Homo sapiens: one gene and its partners. The protein of the gene in region 2 interacts with the protein of the main gene of each other region in a pairwise test. Each region holds a gene or a part of one and is shown on either strand. Other genes may lie near its edges.

What was found.
Region 1: the proteins of SLC23A1 (region 2) and KRTAP4-11 interact in binary tests that used the Homo sapiens proteins (3 or more experiments, as listed by UniProt).
Region 3: the proteins of SLC23A1 (region 2) and GRHPR interact in a two-hybrid assay, tested with the Homo sapiens proteins (one study listed by IntAct).

Annotation. Positions count from the first base shown.
Region 1 is NC_000017.11:41,115,876-41,124,088, reverse strand, and holds KRTAP4-11 (keratin-associated protein 4-11), read left to right. Parts: upstream 1-5,715; 5' UTR 5,716-5,773; coding exon 5,774-6,361; 3' UTR 6,362-6,908; downstream 6,909-8,213. Other genes in the region: KRTAP4-12 (keratin-associated protein 4-12), read left to right, coding at 1-572. UniProt on the Homo sapiens protein: In the hair cortex, hair keratin intermediate filaments are embedded in an interfilamentous matrix, consisting of hair keratin-associated proteins (KRTAP), which are essential for the formation of a rigid and resistant hair shaft through their extensive disulfide bond cross-linking with abundant cysteine residues of hair keratins.
Region 2 is NC_000005.10:139,372,439-139,380,983, forward strand, and holds part of SLC23A1 (solute carrier family 23 member 1), read right to left. Parts: intron 8,449-8,545; coding exon 8,360-8,448; intron 8,195-8,359; coding exon 8,127-8,194; coding exon of another isoform or gene 8,115-8,126; intron 7,952-8,114; coding exon 7,770-7,951; intron 7,639-7,769; coding exon 7,518-7,638; intron 7,397-7,517; coding exon 7,240-7,396; intron 6,917-7,239; coding exon 6,769-6,916; intron 6,247-6,768; coding exon 6,141-6,246; intron 5,914-6,140; coding exon 5,784-5,913; intron 5,681-5,783; coding exon 5,537-5,680; intron 5,060-5,536; coding exon 4,964-5,059; intron 1-4,963.
Region 3 is NC_000009.12:37,431,956-37,438,295, reverse strand, and holds the end of GRHPR (glyoxylate reductase/hydroxypyruvate reductase), read right to left. Parts: intron 6,289-6,340; coding exon 6,158-6,288; intron 4,196-6,157; exon of another isoform or gene 3,510-4,195; intron 3,459-3,509; coding exon of another isoform or gene 3,379-3,458; intron 1,636-3,378; coding exon 1,514-1,635; 3' UTR 1,306-1,513; downstream 1-1,305. UniProt on the Homo sapiens protein: Enzyme with hydroxy-pyruvate reductase, glyoxylate reductase and D-glycerate dehydrogenase enzymatic activities. Reduces hydroxypyruvate to D-glycerate, glyoxylate to glycolate, oxidizes D-glycerate to hydroxypyruvate.

The DNA of each region.
Region 1 (8,213 bases), on a different chromosome or scaffold from region 2:
ACCAGGGCTGTGGCCTGGAGAACTGCTGCCGCCCCAGCTGCTGCCAGACCACCTGCTGCAGGACCACCTGCTGCCGCCCCAGCTGCTGTGTGTCCAGCTGCTGCAGGCCCCAGTGCTGCCAGTCTGTGTGCTGTCAGCCCACCTGCTGCCGCCCCAGCTGCTGTCAGACCACCTGCTGTAGGACCACCTGCTGCCGCCCCAGCTGCTGTGTGTCCAGCTGCTGCAGACCCCAGTGCTGCCAGTCTGTGTGCTGCCAGCCCACCTGCTGCCGCCCCAGCTGCTGTCAGACCACCTGCTGCAGGACCACTTGCTGCCGCCCCAGCTGCTGTGTGTCCAGCTGCTGCAGACCCCAGTGCTGCCAGTCTGTGTGCTGCCAGCCCACCTGCTGCCGCCCCAGCTGCTGCATCTCCAGCAGCTGCTGCCCCTCTTGCTGTGAATCCAGCTGCTGCCGCCCCTGCTGCTGCCTGCGTCCAGTCTGTGGCCGAGTCTCCTGCCACACCACTTGCTATCGCCCAACCTGTGTCATCTCCACCTGCCCCCGCCCCTTGTGCTGTGCCTCCTCTTGCTGCTAAATCTCTGCTGTGAACACACCACTTCCTTATTACGTCCTTTCCTACAGATGAAGGCTCTCATTGCAAACATGCGGACTGTTCAAGAGAATTGATCTGGGTCCCATAAGCAAACCTCATCCTTAGAAATTCTGTATTTGCATTCTACCTTTTGTCCAAACTCCCTTCCTTCCAAAGGAATTCATTGACAATCTCCTAATAAATTGACAAATTGTCCTCCAACATCCTCCCACCTCTTTGACTTCAGGACATTTATTCATCATGCCTAAGGAATTTGAAGATTGCCTCCATCATTTGTAGGGCCACAGATCTTAAAGCCTCCAACCTTGAAGTCCAGTGAAGTCTCTCTCTTAAAGTCTTTTGCAAACATTTTTGTACCTTGTTATTTCCATGTACCAAAATAAACCTCTATTCTATTGGCACTGAAAATTGAATATGATTCTTATTCTCTTTTTAAAAAGGGTTTTATATTTAGGTCCTGGGTGATTACATTTAACTACACCTGTAGGGCTCACAGCACAGATTAGTCAACCTTCTAACAGAGGTCAACTGACATCGATCACTGCCTAGTTTTTTTCTAGAAAAGTCTTTTCAGGCTTAGGCAAATCAATTAGTCATTTTGTATTCTTTAGACAAAAAGAGTGAAGCTGAAGTCATGAAATATCCATGAATATAACAACAGGGGAAACGTTTTGAAAGATTGATCACAACTCATCATCTTTTAAAAAATAATTTCAACTTTTATTTTAGAATCAAAGAGTACATATTCGTATTTGTTACATGTTGTGTGATGCTGAGGTTTGGGCTACAAATGATTCTGTCACCAGGTACTGAGCAGTGGGTCATTTTTAGCCCTTCCTCTCTCCCTCTCTCCCCCCTTTTTGGAGTCCCCAATTGTTCTCATCTTTGTGTCCATGTGTATCCAATGTTTAGCTCCCATTTGTAAGTGACAACATGCAATATTTGGTTTTCTGTTCCTGGAAAAATTTGCTTAAGATAATGTCCTCCAGCCACATCCATGTTGCTGCAAAGGACAAAATTTCATTCTTTTTTATGGCTGTGTAGTATTCCATGGTGTGAAAATGTCACATGTTCTTTATCCAATGCACTGTTGATGGGCACCTAGACTGATTCCATGTCTTTACTATTGTGCACAGAGCTGTGATCTTTTAAAACACTGTATTTCAATTTCTTTTTTTTTCCAGTAAAAGCAGCTATTAGGTGGTTTAGCAAAGTCCATGTATTTTCTACTGAGTCATGTGTAATGAATCCTCAACACAAACACAGTGGATCTCCTTCATTCTGACTGGCAGAGTTTCAATGGGGAGTTCATGCTGCCATGTAGAGAGGGCCACCTTCACGGCCAGGCAGGTGATGGAAATGAAGGAAGCAGGCCTAGTGAAAACTCACAGGTATGCTGGAGACTGATTTTTTTTCTTTTCGTCCAAAGTCATGCCCTTTTTTTAGGATGAAACTATAAAGACCCACATTTCTCCCCAACTAGGGATGCCTCTAATGGGTCATCTCATCTCCAGAACTCCCTATAGGTTCATCTGAGACTTCCACGGAGATTGCCCTGCAGTTTGATTTATCCCAGTGTCAAACTTGATCTTTCTCTCACTTTCCCTTCCTTTCCCTTCCCTTCCCTTCCCTTCCCTTCCCTTCCCTTCCCTTCCCTTCCCTTCCCTTCCCTTTCCCTCCCCTTCCCCTTCCCTTTCCCTTTCCCCTCCCCTCCCTTTCCCCTCCCCTGCCCTCCCCAGTGTTAATCCCAAGAGCATGCTTCAATAAACCTCCTGCATATTGCTCTCCATCTCAGTGACTGCTTCCTGGGGAACCCAGCCTGTCCCCCAAAACAATTTGAAATTCATGATAGCTAATTTGAGAGCTCAAATGACTGACTGAAATGTACTTTTAATATTTTAGTTCCTGAAAGAAATAAGAATGTAAACATAATAGCAGAAAATATATTTAACAGAATATGTAGAAAAATTATGAATTTTATATAAATCACATTTATTATTTTCTAAGGATGTTTAGATCATTTATACACAAATATATGCTCTTTAAACATTTAGACAATACAAAAGAATGTGACAATGTGAACAAAAGTAAGTTTCCCATCATGATCTTTGCCAATCCCATTCAATACCTAATGTTGCAAATTGAGATACATCCTCATTAAATGCATGCATAAAACATGTATGTATTTATTTGAAAACTTGGCTTTCGTTGCACATCTCTTGTTCTGACATTTATTCAAACATTATTTTATGTCCTTCCGGAAATGTTAACATTTTCCTTCACAAAGGCTTGGCAGATTTATTTACATATTTTTCTATTTACTCTTGAGAACTGTGAGTACATGCTTCTTTTTTTTTTTATTATACTTTAAGTTCTAGGGTACATGTGCACAACGTGCAGGTTTGTTACATATGTATACATGTGCCATGTTGGTGTGCTGCACCCATTAACTCGTCATTTACATTAGGTATTTCTCCTAATGCTATCCCTCCTCCCTCCCCCCACCCCACGACAGGCCCCAGTGTGTGATTTTTCTCCATTAAATTTTAGAGAGAATTATTGCTAGTGTATAAAAAGTCTATGGATTAGTATAAGTTCATATTTTATCTGATCTCGCGATTCACACTAATACCCAGCTGACTCTACAGGATTTTACAGGTGTGCAATCATGGTGGCCAAGTGCCTCCAGCCTCAGGCTTGTCCCTGGGGTTCGTCCCCAGCTGCCCACAGTGGGGGCCTTACCATTAACACAAACACTGTTGGGATTTTCTACCTTTCCTGTCTTACTTTCACCGTTTCCTCACTTGTGCTTCCTGGGATCATCCCCCAAATAAATTATGTGCACTCAGGTCTTTTTCTCAAGGTTTGCATTGGGTAGAATTTAAGCTAAGACAACAGATTATCAGCAAACATTTTTGGCTGACTGATACGAAACAGGAAATAATAGTTATTTCAATCAACAAGAGTAAAACGAGGAAGTCAGGAGGTGAAGGAGAACCAGTGCTACCATCTGGCGTTTACTTCCTTCCTGTCTTTTTACTGTGTGAATATAGGCATGCACGTTCAACACTGTATTCTTGGTTATCTATAAACAAGTCTCATTCTATAAATTGAATCTTGACTTCCGCAGTTTCCACGTATGTTATTTATCGGGTGACATGTTACCTATCACACAAATGAGTTTAGTCTTCCTGAAATGAAATTATGATTTCTTTGTTTGGGATGTTTTCCTCCCTTTTATCCAGAAGTCAAAAGATATATACATTTTTTAAAGGACCTTACATGCCTCTATGTCATCAAAAAAACCTTCATTCACTCAACAAACATTTACCACCAGTGTTCTCTGTGCTGAGTATCATGGTAACGAGAATAAATGCCATAGCGCAAGCCTTCAGGGTATTTGCATTGCACGTGGTGGAAAGACAGAAGTAAATGACTATGATACAGGAGAATGTATAAATTATGAGCACAAGGCAGGAAATCATGATACATGAATGGGGTAGCTTAGCAGGAAAGATATTATTGAGGAGGAAATATTTTAACTGGGTCTTGACACATGAGTAGGAGTTTGCAGAGTGGACAAAAAAAGATGAAACATTCCAAGAAGATGAAGCAGTTTCAGCAAGCTTAGCAAATTGTATTCTTTACGGCTTTCTTGGCTACACTAAGACATATTAGGCTTACTTTCTCTTTAACCTTGGACAAGTTGTTTGTTTGTTTGTTTTAAGTTTTTAATGCTTCTTTTGAGTATTCCCCTAAAAGACTAATAAGAATATAAACTAGTTCATAAGGTTCTATTAAAGCGTGAAAATGAAACAAATGTAAGATATTTGGTACAATGCCTGCTACATAGTCAATACTTCACAAGTAATATACATACCATGAGGGTGTATGGAACTTATCCACATATTATACATTTCTTATTTTAGTTGTTTAATGAAAATAATTGTAATTCTTTTCATTTCTGCCAAACTGTTTCCTATCCATGTGTCTTATGCAAGTACCTGCAAGAAAAAGTTGAGGGTTTATCTGTTCTACACCCAGAGTACCCAATAGAACATCTTGGATGCATGTTATTGAAGGCTTAATAATTCTAAATATTCTTTATATATAACAAATGCTTTTGTAAATGAAAAATCCATCATGCAATTTTGATGATCAAAGATTAATCAGGCTGGGTGTTGGGGGCTCATGCCTGCAATCCCAACACTTTGGGAAGCCAAGGCAGGTGGATCACGGGGTCAAGAGATCGAGACCATCTTGGCCAACATGGTGAAACCCTGTCTCTACTAAAAATACAAAAGTAAGCTGGGTGTGATGGCGCAAACCACCTTACTCGGGAGGCTGAGGCAAAAGAATCGTTTGAACCCAGGAGGTGGAGGTTGCAGTGAGCAGAGATCATGCCACTGTACTCCAGCCTGGCGACAGATTGAGAATCTGTCAAAAAAAAAAAAAAAGATAAATCAAAACTTCCTACTCATAATGCATATACTGTAAGACATACAGCAAAATGTGTTTTTACCCTTTAAAGGCAGTGAGTCATGGGTAAGTACTTTCGCTGGAGGCTGTGGAATAAGATCTGACAGAGTTTAGAACTTCTTGGGATCTGACCATCTGCCCGACCATCCGAGATGCACACATGGGATCAGAGTCATCCTCATTACAGATGGGACATCCTTCCCCAAATGAGTGCTTCCTTCTAATTCCTTCCCAACATTTCACCTGACCAGGACATTCTTTGACAACAAAAGATACATTCACATTATAAAAATCATCCCCCATGATTTGCAGACAGCAATCTGCAGGTAGGAGGGAGAGTCACATTTAAAAACAAAATGTCAGAGAGTCCTGTGACCAGTGCTTTGTAAAAGACACTGCATAGACCAGGGACAAAGGTGACTCCCCACTAATGAAGAAATATGACATGCATTTCCAATGGAAACACAGGAGCACAGCAGGAAAAGGAAATGGGTTATTTTCTCTGTTTTGGAGTATTTAACTGGAAACACAATGATGTAATTACATGATTAATTTTTCCAGTAGGTAAATAATAACAAGGAAATAATGATGTGGTGGCAATGGGCCTTCAGGAGGGTATAAAGGGACTACAGGCCCAGGAGACTTCCAAACACAAGAACTTCACTCTCCTAGAAACCCAACTAGATCCTTCACCCTCTGACACCATGGTAAACTCCTGTTGTGGCTCCGTGTGCTCTCACCAAGGCTGTGGCCGAGACCTCTGCCAGGAGACCTGCTGCCGCCCCAGCTGCTGTGAGACCACCTGCTGCAGGACCACCTACTGTCGCCCCAGCTGCTGTGTGTCCAGCTGCTGCAGGCCCCAGTGCTGCCAGTCTGTGTGCTGCCAGCCCACCTGCTGCCGCCCCAGATGCTGCATCTCCAGCTGCTGTCGCCCCAGCTGCTGTGTGTCCAGCTGCTGCAAGCCCCAGTGCTGCCAGTCTATGTGCTGCCAGCCCACTTGCTGCCGCCCCAGATGCTGCATCTCCAGCTGCTGTCGCCCCAGCTGCTGTGTGTCCAGCTGCTGCAGACCCCAGTGCTGCCAGTCTGTGTGCTGCCAGCCCACCTGCTGCCACCCCAGCTGCAGCATCTCCAGCTGCTGCCGCCCCTCTTGCTGTGAATCCAGCTGCTGCCGCCCCTGCTGCTGCCTGCGTCCAGTCTGTGGCCGAGTCTCCTGCCACACCACTTGCTATCGCCCAACCTGTGTCATCTCCAGCTGCCCCCGCCCCTTGTGCTGTGCCTCCTCTTGCTGCTGAGCCCACTGCCCTGGCTCATCTCTCCCTTCACTGCAGGCCCACAGTTGTAGACCATTCTTCTGTGCTGACTATTAGGACACATGGAGTGGGATTGATGTCATTCAGCAGGGTGGACTTCATGTTTCCAATGAGCCCATCACCATCCCACTGACTCTGTGAGAACATTCTGGTTCATTTTAAACTCCCTCCCTTGCTTTCTTTCTCTTCCAGTCATGGCACCAAATATGAAATAATTTGTAATCCACTAGCTAAGAAATTATTCCAATCCTCTAAATTCCTCATTTTTTAAATCGTTTTGAGCCTACAGAATATCCTTCCCAGTGAGGTACACATTATCTCCATTTCAAACATATTATTTGTCTGTCAGCCTTTCAGTCATTCTTTTCTCTTGGAAAGGTAGGAGGCTGCCCCTCCCATGCTCTCCTGCTTTCTCCCTGTTCTCTCTTTGTCTCTGTTTGTTCAAGTTTGCCAGAATTTTTCTATTTTATTGGTTCTTTATCTTTATTGTGTTCACAAAATATATTGTATTAAACTTTTCATTTAGAAATCTTTTATTGTTTTTTGCATTTTTTTGTGATAATTTTCACTGAGTTTACTGATTCATGGGGGTGAGGTGGGAATGCAGTAGAAGGGGATTCTCAAAGCATGATTCCAAAGTAAGACTTCAGGGATGAACTCATAGTGCCAAACTGCTCCAATGTCACGCATAAACTAAAATAAAATAGAAGCTTTTGATTGTTTCAATTTGATATATGGAATGCTTTGGGATAGGTAAAGCCCCAGTATTGTTGTTTGTAAGTTCATCCATGATTTTAGAACTTATGATATCATGGTAATACTCCTCACTCTTCTGTGTCAAATTTAAAAGGCACATCTCATCCTACTGCATTCCATCTTGATTCAAATCAGTTAAGGCAGACTCCAAATGTTATATAAGGGAATTTTGTTATTTTGTTGTCGGTGGACCAGTTCAGGTTCTTGAATTTGCTGTGCAAAAGAATTTGAGAGCAAATCCAAAGTAAGAGTAAGCGAAGAAATTTGTTGCAAAGCAAAAGTACTCTTTGAGAGGCAGAGTGGGGTGCTCAGTGGGAGAGACAGCAGCTAGTGCTGTAAGAGGAATTCCTTTTATGGGAGCTATACGTACATAATCATAAAATACTGGTGAGGTCAAGTATGCAAAGGCAGACCTGCGGTTGGCACATGTGCTCAGGATCCACGTGGTCTAACACCCATCGCATGTATCATTAGCATATGAAATCTCCGCCTTGGGGTGTTTTTCTTGTTGTGGTTGTTTTTACTATTAAAATGAGGAAATGGTTACTATAAGCTGAACCTTGATCCTAGCTGTGCATGCAGGACCCCAGAGAAGTCCCTGCCCACCCTCCCAAACACCCCACCCCAGGAAGGAATTTGTAGTTAGGAGTTTCTTGGGCTTTTGGTGCAAATTGGCTAGAGATTGGGGAAGCTGCATCAGGAATAAAGGGCTTTTGCTCTCTTTCCCAGGTTGTACTAGGTATCAGGAACTTGTAACCCTCTGGTGGGTCTGCTTCGATTCTGTAGGACCCCTTATCTTGTGAAAGAGTTAGGCACTGATGCACAAAGGTTCAAGTGAAAAGAGCTTGCTGTGAAAGGATCCTGCTGGGCTTCACACAGGGGACAAGTCAGTATGGCCTTGTGAACCCCCAAAATCGGAGACAGGTCTCAGTTTATTTAGAAAGTTTATTTTGCCAAGGTTGGGGATGTACACCTGTGACACAGCCTCAGGAGGTTCTGAAGACATGTGCCCAAAGTGGTCAGAGCACAGCTTGGTTTTATACATTTTAGGGAGACATGAGACATCAATCAACATATG
Region 2 (8,545 bases):
AAGGATACTAGTTATAGTAGTATTTATTGTGTAACTACAGTGTGCCAGGCTCTGTGCTAAGTGCTTTAATTTCATTATCTTGTTTCTTGAAAACATACCCCTGGGAGATGTATAGACACCATTGTACAAATTTTTATTTTATTTTATTTTATTTATTTATTTTTTTGAGACAGTCTCGCTCTGTTGCCCAGGCTGGAGTGCACTGGCACGATCTCGGCTCACTGCCACCTCCTCCTCCCGGGTTTAAGCGATTATCCTGCCTCAGTCTCCTTAGTAGCTGGGATTACAGGCATGCACCACCATGCCCAGCTAATTTTTGTATTTTTAGTAGAGACGGGGTGTCACTATGTTGGTCAGGCTGGTCTTGAACTCCTGACCTTGTGATCTGCCTGGCTTGGCCTCCCAAAGTGCTGGGATTATAAGCGTGAGCCACTGTGCCCGGCCTATACAAAATTTTAAGATGAAGAAAGGGACAAAAAGTTAAGTAATTGTGAACCTAAATCTGTGAGTATGTGGTAATGTGTGTTAGGCCCATGGGGACCAAATCAAGTCCAGATTGCGTTCTGGGGGTAAGGGAGGCATATTTTGAAACACTATAATCAGTGTTAATATTTCATATTATGATTCCATATGTGAAAAACTCATTTTTATAATACAAACTTCAGAAAGTCAAGCTAAATAAAATCTTTGGAGGTAGGGATACACCAAATAATTTGTTTTTTTGTGTTGTGTTTTTTTTGTTGTTGTTGTTGTTTTTGAGACAGAGTCTTGCTCTGTTGCCCAGGATGGAGTACAGTGGGTTGATCTCGGTTCACTGCAACCTCTGCCTCCCAGATGCAAGCGATTCTCCTGCCTCAGCCTCCCGAGTAGCTGGGATTACAGGTGTGACCCACCACGCCCGGCTAATTACTGTAATTTTAATAGAGATGAGGTTTCACCATGTTGGCCAGGCACTGGTGTCGAACTCCTGACCTCAAGTGATCAGCCCGCCTTGGCCTTGCAAAGTTCTGGGATTATAGGTGTGAGCCACTGAGCCGGGCTAGTAATTTTTACAACTAGGAATTCTCCCTCAGGTGGGGCAGGGTCACATGAGATCTCAGGTTTTCACAAGAGGGCTGGGATCGACAAAGACTGAAATACTATAAATCTAGCAGGAGTGGGAATTTCCACTTGCTGGCAGCCCAGGCTGAGAACAAACCCATGAGTAGCACAAACCAAGTTATGTTCCAAAATCTCACAGGAGAGGGCACTGAGGGAAGGTGGAGTCCCTAGGGAAGACTACCTGGAAGAGACACTGTTTGGGCTTGGCTCTACAAAGGGCACACACAGTCTGGAAGAGAAACCTTGATTGGGCTTGGCTGTACAAAGGGCACACACAGTGGGCACAGTAGAGTGGGATGAGCCATAGGTGTGGCGTAGGACTATGTTTCTGGTGTCCGATTACCTCGCACCACTGCCAAGACACACATGGCAGCCAGCCCAGAGCTCCCTCTAGCAGACCAGTCAGCCTGCCCACTACATCCCAACCTTCAGTGCCTTCTGTACTTCTCCAAGCCCCCTCCTTTTTCCTAGGCCTCACCTACTCTCCCTCATCAGTAAACCCTCCCAATAACTCCAGCCCGGCTTCCTTGACTTCATTGCTTGCTTAAATCTAGTTTTACCACCTATCTTGTGCCAGGAGCTCCTCTAAACAAATTGTTACTGACTTACACTTTTTGGCATATCCTCCTCAGTGTCTGATTCAGGGCCAAGCTGGTAAGCTCTAGCAGCATGTGCTGAACTAAACGGACTGCCCTCTAAGGTTGGGCTCTGGATAGGTAAAGACAAAGAGCACCCTGTGTCTACTAAAAATACAAAAAATTAGCCAGGCGTGGTGGCGGGCACCGGTAGTCCCAGCTACTCGGGAGGCTGAGGCAGGAGAATGGTGTGAACCTGGGAGGCACAGCCAAGATTGCGCCACTGCACTCCAGCCTGGGCGACAGAGCGAGACTCCGTCTCAAAAACAAAACAAACAAACAAACAAAAAAAACAAATGCAAAATGGCCCATCCCCAGCAGGAAGTTAAGGGCTGGAAAAGGCTTTTGCTATTCCATGGTTAAGGACAGGGTTTTGAGCCAGCTAGACCTTAGTTTGAATCCAGGTTGTGTGACCTTAGGCAAGTGACAACCCCCCTGAGCTTTAGGTTCCTCAGTGGATACTGAAGACTGCTGAGCTTATGTGGCATGACACACAGGATGATTCCTGGCAGGGACAGTTGTGATGCTCAGGTGGGTTGAAATGTGGGGTATAAGGGACTCAGGCAGTTCTGCAGCTGTTGTTAAGGATGACTGGATAGCTTAAACTAGCCACCCAAGTCACAAAGAAGCCTCTTCATGTACAGATGCCTACCCAGATGCTCTCCATCTCCTCATATTCCCTAGGCATTGAGGCTGCCACTTGACTGTCTCAGGCCCATAGGATGGTCTGTTCCAGCCCCCAGTCTAGCATCCTCTAAATGGGCAGGGGTACCATGTTCAAATAGCCACCCATCCATCGAAGGGACAGCTGCTACCAAGAGCACCTTCCTTTGATTCTGCCTAAAATCCTACGGGGAACCCTGGCCCTCCTCTGTCCTCCCCAGCCCCAACCCACCAGCTGTTCAGAGACAGCCTCTGACACCTATGTTATGTGAACATGAACACTTGGATCTTGAGAGAGAGGGAGGCAGACAGGACCTGTGGCTGTGATCAGGCTGGTAAGTGACAAAATGGAGGCCCATCATCTTGCTACTACCATCCCTTATGTCCCTATACTGATGCAGTCATTAACTCCCATCTCCATGGAGCCTTCCCCAGTCCTGCAGCCCAGGTCCCCTGAAACCCTCCAGCAGAGGCAGTATGGTGCAGTGGATGGGACACAGGCCATTGACTGCGTCAGATGGATGTTGTTAAAAATCCCAGATTTAGCCAGATGGTATATAGCATGCACCTGTACTCTCAGCTCTTCAGGAGGCCGAGACAGAAGGATTGCTTGAGTCCAGGAGTTTGAGGCTGTAGTATGCTATGATCACACCTGTGAATAACCACTGCACTCCAGCCTGGGCAACATAGACCCCCATCTTAATTTAAAAATAGAGGCTAGGTGTGGTGGCTCACGCCTGTAATCCTAGCACTTTGGGAGGCCAAGGTGGGCGGATCACCTGAGGTCAGGAGTTTGAGACTACCCTGGCCAACATAGTGAAACCCTGTCTCTACTAAAAATACAAAAATTAGCTGGGTGTGGTGGTGCACACCTGTAATCCCAGCTACTTGGGAGGCTGAGGCAAGAGAATCGGTTGAGCTCAGGAGGCGGAGGTGGCAGTGAGCCGAGATCACGCCATTGTGCTCCAGCCTGGGTGACAAGAGCAAGACTCCATCTCAAAAAAAAAAAATTGAGGACAGGTGTGGTGGCTCACACCTATAATCCCAGTACTTTGAGAGGCTGAGATGGGAGGATCACTTGAGCCCAGGAGTTCAAGACCAACCTTGGCAATAAAGTAAGACCCCGTCTCTACAAAAAATTCAAAAATTAGCCGGGCATGGTGGCATGCACCTGTGCACCGGTAGTCCCAATTATTTGGGAGGCTGAGGCAGGAGGGTCACATAAGCCCAGGAGTTTGAGGCTGTAGTGAGCTATGATTGTGCCACTACACTCCAGTCTGGGTGATAGTCTGAGACCCTGTCTCAATTAAAATATACATCCCAGATTTGCGATGTTTTAATTTTTTTTTTGAGATGGAGTCTCACCCTGTCACCCAGGCTGGAGTGCAATGGCACGATCTCGGCCCACCGCAACCTTCGCCTCCCAGGTTCAAGCAATTCTCCTGCCTCAGCCTCCCGAGAAGCTGGGATTACAGGCACACACCACCACACCCAGCTAATTTTTGCATTTTTAGTAGAGATGGGGTTTCACCATGTTGGCCAGGCTTGTCTCAAACTCCTGACCTCGTGATCCACCCGCCTTAGCCTCCCAAAGTGATGGGATTACAGGCATGAGCCACCATGCTCGGCCGTGATGTTTTAATTTTGTGACTTTATGACTTTGTGGTTTTTGAGGATGAAGTAAGACACTTAGCTCTGCCTTACCCATAGTATATGTTTGCTAAATGTTAACTGTTTGTTATCAGAGCACCTGGTGACATTTATTTTATATATTTACTGGCATCTTTATGCGGGCCCCACAAAGTATCCTCCACGATCTTTGCAAAAAGCTCTGGTACCAAAGGGAAATGTTAGTGGCTCTTCTAGTCGCCATTGTGGCAGGCTGCTGACATATTTGGAGTGGATGGATTTTGCCAACAAACTGATGCTGCATTTATCTCTGTCCTACTCTGAAGAAAGCAAAGACATCCCTCAGCCCAGTGGCTATTAAGAAATGGAGAGGAGGCCAGGTGCAGTGGCTCATGCCTGTAATCCAGCACTTTGGGAGGTTGAGGCGAGCGTATCACTTGAGGTCAGGAGTTCAAGACCAGCCTGCCCAATATGGTGAAACCCCATCTCTACCAAAAATATGAAAATTAGCTGGGCGTGGTGGCAGCCACCTGTAGTCCCAGCTACTCAGGAGACAGGAGAATCACTTGAACCCTCCGGGAAGTGGAGGTTGCAGTGAGCTGAGATCGCACCACTGCACTCCAGCCTGGGTGACAGGGCGAGACTCCATCTCGGAAAAAAAAAAAGGAAAGAAATGGAAAAAGTGGAGAGGAAAGGATTCACAGGACCCAGCAGTGACTCTTCCGGCCCCATCCTCTTCAAGACCTCTGAGGCATGTCTGTGCCTCATTCTCTCCCTCCAGCCAGTGAGCACTCCACCAGCCCATCTATTCCTGATGCTCCCTGCAGGGCCTGCATTGCATGGGACCTAACCACACAGCTCCAGCTCAGAGGCCATCTGTTGGAGTGCATGAGTCCAGCCTAGTTCTTCATTCCCCTCCCAGGACCGAACCATACCTGGCACTGTGTTGTCAAGTATGAAAGCAAGGCACCCGCCCACAAACATCTCCGTGGTCAGCAGCACAATCAGAATCTGATCCACTTCAAGAATGCCTGTGGAATAGGCCAAGGGCCAATGGGTGTCATGGCCCAATCTGGAGAGCAGAGTTGAGGGACTTCCTCTTGTGCAGCTATGGCAAAGGAACAGTACAAAGCCCTGTCTCAAACCTATCTCTGTCTTTCCTATCTCTGGGTTCAAGTCCCAATTCTGCCAGTTGCTAGTTGTTCACCTGGGACAAATCACTGAGCCTCATCTTCCTCATCTGTAAAGTTGAAATGATAATGGAGAAATGATAAATGTAGATAAATGGAGCTGTTTTGAAAATTAAATAAGCACATGTAAAGGTCAATATCTGTCCACAGGAAGTGTCTTAGTAAAGGACAGCTGTGACCCAAGCTCTCAGCTGCTGGTTGACACCCAGAGTTGGGTACGATTTGTGGCTGTAGCTGTGTGGAGCCTTTGAGGGAGGGGGCTGTGCTCAAAATTTTGGGCCCACCCCGCCTTTGGAGACAGTAAACAGCTGGAGGCACCTGTATTGATGGCGCCAGGGTTGGACTCCAGGTAATTGGGCAGCGTGAGCCCGAAGAACATGGAAAATCCCAGCACGAAGAGGTTGCGAGAGGAGTTCATGTCCACAAATTGCAGGTTGGACAGCCCCACAGCTGTAATCATGCCTAAGGGCGCAAGAGAACGGCTGGAGGCGCCGCACACGCGTAATCCAGGTGAGTCCCACTCGGCGACCCGCACCGCGACCCGTGGCCCGCGCCAGACACTCACCAAAGAGAGTGCAGAACATGCCCCCCAGGATGGGGTCAGGGAGCGAGGCGAAGAGGGCCGTGAACTTGCCGATGGTGCCCAGGACCAGCATGATAGCCGCACCATACTGCACCACGCGCCGGCTGCCCACCTGCCGGGGAGCCAGCGGGGAAGCTAGACCTGGGGACGAGGCTGGGGCGGGGTTAGTTCCAGGGGCGGGGCCTGTTATAAGAGCGAGGCATAAACCGGCTGGGGCTTGATGCGGGGGCGAGGCCTCTCAAAGACAGGGTGGGGCTAAACCAAAGTGGGGACCGAGTTGGGGCGGGGCCTGCGGCCCACGGAATTAGGGCAGGATTTGGCTCTGGCTCGTCGCGACACCTTGGTAATTCCCAGGACGCCAATGTTGGGACTGGACGAGGTGGACCCGTTGCCCGTGCCCAATAGCCCCGCGATGATGCAGCAAATGCCTTCGGTGAAGATGCCCCTGTAAGGAAAGGGAGAGTCGGGGCTTGGTCCAGCCTCTGCACCAGTCTGTGTTCCCCCATCATCTTAGCAAGCTGCCGTCCTCTGGGGCTGTGGGGGCTGCAGCTATCAGCTGTAGCACTCCCTACTACAGGCCAGAATGCTCAGGCTCCAGAGCTAGTCCTAGTGCCCTGGCACTTACTCCTGTGGGTAATTCTGGCCTTCAATTTCCTCCTGGGATAAATACCGGTGCCCGTCTCACAAAATGCTTCAAAGATTGCATAAGAATGCACAGTCAGAGCCGGGCACATGGAGGGCTGTCAATGACGGTGGTTCCCTTTGGACTCCACCATCTTCTCAGCTACTCCCAGCAAAGACAGAGGGGTGATGAGAGGGCACCCCCATCGCACAAACAAGGAGAATGAGGTCTGGAGCGTGTTCCCGACTTGCCTAAGCCTACCCCCTGGGCCTCCACCCCGTTCCTGTGTGTGCTTCCTGGGTGGCGCCTGAGGAGATCAGATACTGAGGAGGGCAGGTAGGCTACCTGTTGATAGCATGTACTGGAGGGGGTGGTGCACCAGCCAGGCGGGCACAGGCGTAGTAATCTCCGATGGACTCAATGATGCCTGCCAGAGTGGCGCTGAACATTCCCAGGACAGCAGCCGCAGTCACCGTGGGCAGGCCCCACTGACCTGTGCTCGGAGGGAGACAGGATGGTGGCTACAGTGAGGAGACTGTGATGGTTAGGAATAGACAGGGCAGTGCTGGAAGGAGCAAGAGCAGATCAGGAGACCTCAGGCTGGGATGGGAGCTATACAGTTGTGGGAGCTTATTTGAGTCACTCAGAGCCAGGAAGTGGGACTGAAGCTTTGTCTAAGTAAAACACCACTCTGCTGGGCGCACTATAAATGTGCGGCTAATGCTAGGTGTGTCACCTGCTGGATTGGGGTCACCAGGAGTCTGTCTCATAGGTGGTCTCAGTTGGGGGCAGAGGGGCCCAAGGGGTGTTGCTCACAGGGGTAGGGGATGCGGATCCAGGGTGCAATAGCCATGATGTCACCACGGGCATCGGTTCGTGCCTGGAAGCCATAGGCTTTTGGGTCTGTGGGCAGCACGTCTGTCAAGGTCAGGACATAGCAGAGCAGCCACACGGTCATGATGGCCAGCATGATCTGAAGGAGGGGGGTGAGGGGGCACTGAAGGCACTGGAGGTCTCTGTCCAGGCTAACCTGCTCCCACCTCAGCCCAAGCCCTGGCCATAGTCCCAGCCCCAGCCGCCTGCCAGGTCCTCACAGGAAACATTTTGAAGATCTGGATGCGGAGGAGAGTGAGGCCCTTGCCCCAGCGGTAGACAGGCAGCAGGAAGGTGAGGTTGCGCAGGTACTGGGAGAAGAGGATGATCAGGAGAATGGAGCTGGGGGCAGAGGCACAATCAGGAAGTGGATGGGAGGCCAGGCTGGGGCCAGGAGCCGGGAAGAAGGACCAAGGACATGAAGAGGGTAGGGTGCTGGGGCTGGGCAGGGATCAGGCCTGGTGCCTGCTCACCAAGCTGAGATGCCCCAGTGGGAGCCAGCTCGGTCGCCAGCAGCTTGGAAGACAGAAAGGCCAATGAGGGAGACAGTGGGGGTGACTGTGAGAGGCCCAATGTAGTTGAGCAGGGCCCCAGGCAGCCCCAGCAGGCCAATCACCACCTCCACCACGCTGGACACCATGATTGCACCCTGGACCTGGAAGGGCAAACATCAGCCGTAAGTCACCATGTAAAGGTCATGACCTGGCTGCTGCTAGCAGGAACAAAGCTCCTGGACCACCTCCTCAAATCCCCAAACTCAGCGGCCACCCTCACTCCCATATAGCCCCTCCTCAGGACCCGGCCTCTTCTATGCTTACATGCAAACCCACCTCCCGTATCCGTGGGTGCCAAATATGAGAGGTGTTCAGGGGCAGACTCCAGTTACCGTAGATCTCCTCTGGGGGTAGAGTCAGGGATACACACACGGACCAGGTACAGAGACAGAGAGGGAGAGAAGATGCTGCCATGGCTGCACCCTGGTGTTGACCCGGGACAGTTGCTCAGACCTCCAGGTCTCTGGGCCTCCCCTTTTCCCCAGTGCAGACCCCAGAAGTGTACCCACCTTCCGGGGGGCATTTCCATCTCTCCAGAGCCAGTATGGCTTTGGCTGGAACCAGAAATGCAAAGGCACTGGCCTGGAACAGCGGCAGCCTGGAGGAGAGGCACAAAGCAACAGGGGTGGGGAGGGGCGGGTGGGGAGGAGGGATAAAGATGCGGGGAGAGATCAGGAAGGGAGAGCACAGAGAGA
Region 3 (6,340 bases), on a different chromosome or scaffold from region 2:
ACTGGTTTTGGGTACCTGAATTTTGATTGGTTAGCCTTAATTATAGTCTGGCGTGATCATGTAGAATCTTTTCTGGTGAACAGATCATAAAGTTCTATCAAGGAGTTCTATCAAGGCATCCATGTCAGTGGTGCTATGCTGGTTACAACTTGAGATTTTTGAAATAAAAAATTTGTCATATTCATGCCTCTAAATATGTGTTCTTTTTCTTTACGTTATTAAGGTTGAAACCAAAGAGGGTAATATCTCTTTGCCAGCCCTTCTTTGACTAGTACTTTGTTTTAAACCAAACCTTCTATTAACAGTTAATTGGTCGTTCCTCTCAAATCATTCCCTTCTGCCTTCCCCCGCCTTTTCTGTCTTTGAGCTACGCACATGCATGAGATTTTGCTTTTCAGTCTACCCAGTTGCTCTCTGAGGGCCTGCGTAATCTTGTGCTGCTCCCTGGACCTGCCTCCCAAGTTGGAAACTCCATCTGCCAGTTTGGCTTGGCTGCTGGGAAGAGCTGGAAGCTGATTCCTTGAGCACAGAGCAAGGCATTGGCAATGGCAGTGCTGTGGCCTGACCTTGGAGAGAAGTGGGTAAGGTGGTGATTAAAAAAAAAAAAAATCCACCTGGGGGCAGGGAGGGGCTGGGGGGACAGAATGGGCAAAGGGAACAATATGTGTAGGTGCTGAAACTAATTTTAAAATTAAACCCACCTACCTCTAATCGTTCTGACCAAAATAAGAGTTACGTCCTTACCTAGTTCTCATTTCTTCCAGTTAACTCCTTTTCTGGAAGTGCTCCTTAATTTTCCTGATGGTCTAGGTATCAAGATTCAAGTGCCATGGTCACAACTGGGTTCTGTTTGTCCCGTCCTTGGTGAGGGACAAGTGAAGGAATCTGGGCAGAGAAGATGAGGGGTAAGGTGGTTTGGACACGTTCCAATAAGGAAAATGCCCAGGGCTGAGGGCTGGGGTGGGAAGCAGAGCCAGGCAGATCATTGGATGCTGTGACTTTGAAACATGCTCTTTGTATTTTTAAAGTTTTTTTTGAAACGGTGTCTTGCTACATTGCCCAGGTTAAGTGTAGTGGTGATTTAAAGAGTGATCATAGCACACTGCAGGAAACGGTATCTTGCTACATTGCCCAGGTTAAGTGTAGTGGCGATTTAAAAAGAGTGGTTATAGCACACTGCAGCCTTGAACTGGCCTCAAAGGATCCTTCCCGCTCAGCCTCCTGAGTTGCTGGGACTATAGGGGTGCGTCACCATGCCCAGCCATATCCACTTGTTAGCTTCCCCATTTACAGGCCAAGACGGTCTCTCAGAGAATTATTTAATAATAGAATTACCATACTTTTGGCGCAAATGTGTCCAACACCAATGTGACAAGTACATATATCAGAATCACTCTTTCCTCAGAGAATCACACCTTCCCTTGGCTCTGCCTGTGGATCCAAATCAAGCCTGGGTGTGTCTGACAATACCAGGGCACGGTTTGCTTCCCGGCCCTCCATCTCTACTGTTTGGCTACAGCTTGAGTTCACTAGGCATCGGCTCCCCTCTCAGGCCAGCCAGCAAGTTGTTAGCTGCCAACAAGGACATGGTGTTGCGGGTTCTGTGGGTGGCACTGCCAATGTGGGGCAGAATCACTGGAAAGGAGAGAGAGAGAGAGAGGGAGATAAGAAGGGTGGTTCAGCAGCCTTCAGCTGGGCTGTTTTCATGGCTTGGGTTTGCCGGTAAGAAGAATAAAGAGAGACTACCTCATGGTTCCATGCTTTGCCTTCTCTCCCACCTTCACTAAGCTTGACACTCCCCCAGAGCTGAGGTTCAGACTAACAGAGTGAAGGGCCTCCAGGCTACTAAAACCCAGTCACAATGTGATGAAAGATTTGTATTCTAGGGCTGGGCGCAGTGGCTCATGCCTGTAATCCCAGCACTTTGAGAGGCCAAGGCAGGCAGATAACTTGAGCTGAGGAGTTTGAGACCAGCCTGGGCAACATGGCAAAACCCCGTCTCTACAAAAAATACAAAAATTTAGCCAGGCGTAGTGGCCCACACCTATAGTCCCCGCTACTTGGGAGGTTGAGGCAGAAGGATTGTTTGGGCCTGGGAGGCAGAGGTTGCAATAAGCTGAGATTGCACCATTGCACTCTAGCCTGGATGACAGAGGGAGACTCTGTCTCAAACAAAAAAATGGTGAACGCATAGGAGTTTAGCACTGGCCACCTGTACCATGTGCCCTTGAAAATGATGCCACATGACCACAAGGTTTCTGATCTACAGAAATAACTCCAAAATGAAATGCTGAACAGCACAGTTATCTCTGATCCCACCCCAGAGCAAGTGAACTTACTTGCCCCCAAAGAACCGTCAGCTGGGTGCAGTGGCATATTCCTGTAGTCCCACCTACTCCAGATGCCGAGATGCAAGGTTCGCTTGAGCCCAAGAGTTCGAGGCCAGCCTGGACCACATAGCGAGACATCATCTTTACCAAATAAACCCCATAAAACTGCTTTTGGGTTTTTTCCAGGTAGAAATCATGTTTCCTTTTAATTGAGTACATTTTCTTCTTTAAATTTTATCATTATTGTAATAGGGTCTTTGTTGCCCAGGCTGGTCTTGAACTCCTGGCCTCAAGTGATTCTCCTGTCTTAGCCTCCCAAAGGGCTGCGATTACAGGTGTGAGCCACTGCGCCCAGCCATAATTCAGTACTTAATTCACAGAGTTTCTTCTCCTCTCTGGTAACAATTAGGTCCCCTCCTCTCAAGAACATTGCATCTGATCAAACTGAGAGCCAGCATGAACATGGACCCCAAACCAGAGCTTTCAGAATAACAATGAACAGCAAAAACCAGCCTTTCCCTACACTTAGGAAGGGACTGTGAATGGCAGGGTCCAAATTTTCACCATCCAAATAGAAAACCCGGAGCTGAATGCCAACATGGAAACCAAAATATGTCAGGAATGAAGTATAGTACCCCTTTACATACTCAAGGTCAGGATAGGTTTGGAGAAATTTGCATCTGACTATTTGGCCTCTTCTAGTAGAGAAGAGTTTTTGAGACAGGGTCTTGCTTTGTTGCCCAGGCTGGAGTGCCATGGCATAGTCAGCTTACTACAGCCTCAACCTCCTAGGCTCAAGTGATCCTCCCACTTCAGCCTCCTGAGCAGCTAGGACTAGAGGTACATACCATTACACATGGCTAATTTTTTATTTTTTATAGGGATGGGGTTTCACTATGTTGCCCAGGCTAGATTCGAACTCTTGGTCTTAGGTGATCCTCCCGCCTTGGCCTCCTAAAGTGCTGGGATTATAGGCGTGAGCCACCCTAATCAGCCCCACCCCAACGTTTCAGACATATAATGAATCAGAATAAATCCGCTCACTCACAAGAAACATTCCTGGATAATGGTTTTTGGTTGCTGAGATTGAGTAGCACATTATTTCAAAGTGGCAAAATTCAGGGCCATCTAGGAGAATTCAAAAGTGGTGGCTATATTTGCCGACAGGTTTACACAGGACACATATAAAACAACCCCCATTTTTTTAGCGTATATGTCAAGAGGCCAAGACCCCGATCATCAAAATATGTTATTTCGTACATTACAGTTTACAGGACAACAGAGGGAAAGACACTTTGTTGGAGGGTGACTAAATGGCATTTTGCAAAAGGTCCGTGTCACTCTGAAGGGGTGGAAGGACTGGAGTCCTATGGCCTTCATTAACTTGACCCCTCCTCCTCTTTGGTTGCAGTGGCCTCAGTGGGAGCTGCTACTTCTACATGTTCTGCGGGCTTTTCCTCTACCTCTGCCTCACCTTCTTGGGGACAAAGATCTGGGTATTTCTGCATGCATTCCTGCATGGCCCCAATTGGTCTACACAGTCTGACCCCTTGACATTCTCCATACTATAGTGGAAGCAGGAAAAGTCCAGCTTGAATTGTTCCCCACAGGGGCCGCTGGCCCTTCCCCCAAGGCACAGGCAGTTCCAGTTAATGTCTCCATTTGGCAGCCTCAATCCGTGCTCCCCCCATAGGGATCACTGGGGTCATCAGCTGTGTTGCTTGGAGCTGCATGGTCTTTTTACATCACAAATGATTGCATCCTTCCCTTCCTGCTGGCAGTAGGACATGGCTGCAGCCCAGTGCTTAGATTTTGTAGAAGCAGCGGTGGCGGCTGCAGCTTCATGCCCTGACTGCCCTCTCCTCAGACCAAGACCTGCCTTTTGAAGCAGTCCCCAGGCCGTGAGCTGAATTCCAGGACCTAGGGTGGGGGTGGGAGGGCAGTTTTCCTGGCTGTGGGCGACAGCCCTGACATCACACCCAGTGCTCCTTGCAGGCTGGGGTGGGGGAGGGACGGGAGAGTTTCCAAGGGCTGCAATAATGGGAGCATTCACTGGGGAAGGCAGCTGAAGACCTTTTGTTTAGGTTTCCATTCCAGAATCCAAATTAAGGGCAGAGACTGGCCCGGACAACCTAAGGCCCTGATCACTCTTAGTCTGGAGGCATAAACTCCACCAGCTACCTGAACAGATCTTAATATAAAGAATCATTAACTACGCATCAAGTTGTTAACTCACTGAGCAGGTAACAAAAACCCAAACCACAAAGTGTGGTCCCTGGACCAGCAGCATCAGTGGCATCTGGGAGCCGTGAGGAGCACACTCTGTCAGACCCCACCCCAGACCTGCTGAAATAGAAACTCTCGGGATGGGGCTAGCAACCTGTGTTTGATCAGTCACTCCTCCAGGTGATTCTGACGAACTCAAAAGTATGAGAATTGGCCGGACACTCATGCCTGTAATCCCAGCACTTTGGGAGGCAGAGGCAGGTGGACCATCTGAGGTCAGGAATTCGAGACCAGCCTGGCCAACATGGACAAACCCCATCTCTACTAAAAATACAAAAATTGGCTGGGCCTGGTGGTACACGCCTGTAATCCCAGCTACTCGGGAAGCTGAGGCAGGAGAATCGCTTGAACCCAGGAGGCAGGGGTTGCAGTGAGTTCAGATTGCACCACTGCACTCCAGCCTGGGCGACAGAGCGAGACTCTGTCTCAAAAAAAAAAAAAAAAAAAAAAATGTGAGAACCACTGCACTGTGGTAGCACAGAGGTAGCAACTGCCAGAGGCACTTCTGGTGCTGCAACTCAGACTTCGGTGGCACGGGCACTGACTGGCTGTTGCTCTTGTCTCTGAGCAGGGCTCAATGGGGCTGGTTCACCAAGTGTTGGAAAAACTGCAAACTGGATTCCCCAGCCACTATGGGAAGGAACTGGTGCTGCTAGATGAAGAAGTGCTGCTGCCACTCCCCCAAAGACAGGAAGGGAGGGCAGGAGGGAGCAGGCCCTTCCACACCCACGCTGACAAGGCCTGCCAGTGCAGCTGGCACAGCAGAAATGGGGTGTGCAGAGGCCTGGCCCCAGCCCCACAAAGCAGAAGAGAGAAGGGGGCTTTGTTGTGAAACAACAGCTTGAAAAACTGGCACGAGTTATATTGGCATTGTCATTACACTTTTAATTTTTCACAGCTAAACTGGTAATAGCAATTTATAGTAACAGGTTTTACACGAGTCACTGTGGTGTAACACATGGAGACATGTAGTCAGCCCACTTTGTTGTTGTTGTTGTTTTGGAGATGGAGTCTCACTCTGCCACCCAGGCTGGAGTGCAGTGGCACAATCTCGGCCTACTGCAACCTGTGCCTCCTGGGTTCAAGCGATTCTTCTGCCTCAGCCTCCCAAACAGCTGGGACTATAGGCATGCACCACCATACCTGGCTAATTTTTGTATTTTTAGTAGAGATGGGGTTTCACCATATCGGCCAGGTTGGTCTCGAACCCCTGACCTCGTGATCCACCCACCTCAGCCTCCCAAAGTGCTGGGATTACAGGCATGAGCCACCACGCCTGGCCCACTCTTTTTTTTTAAACAAATCCACTCACACCTACATTCTGTTCCTTTAGGGACAGAGACCCAGCAGAGCATGCGCAAGAGGACTGCTCCTGTCATACACCCATGTCACTGACAACATAAACATTTACGATCCCTGGTGTGTCCCTTTGGGTTCAACACCTGCTCACACTAGCTCCACACCCGGCCCCTTGGGACCCCCTCAAAAACACTGGTCCTGCAGGGCAGCAGGGAGTTTGCATCAGAAAGTGCAGTTCTTACCACAGTTCTTCAGGGTCAGGAGAGGGTGGTTTGTAGGCAGTGGTTCTGGGCTCGTCACATCCAGTCCAGCAGCTGCAATCTTACCACTGGCCAAGGCCTGGTACAGGTCGTCCTGGTTTACGACGTCGCCCCTGGGAATGACAGTGGTGACATGGGTACCCCGAAGATCCCTCCGCCCAGGCC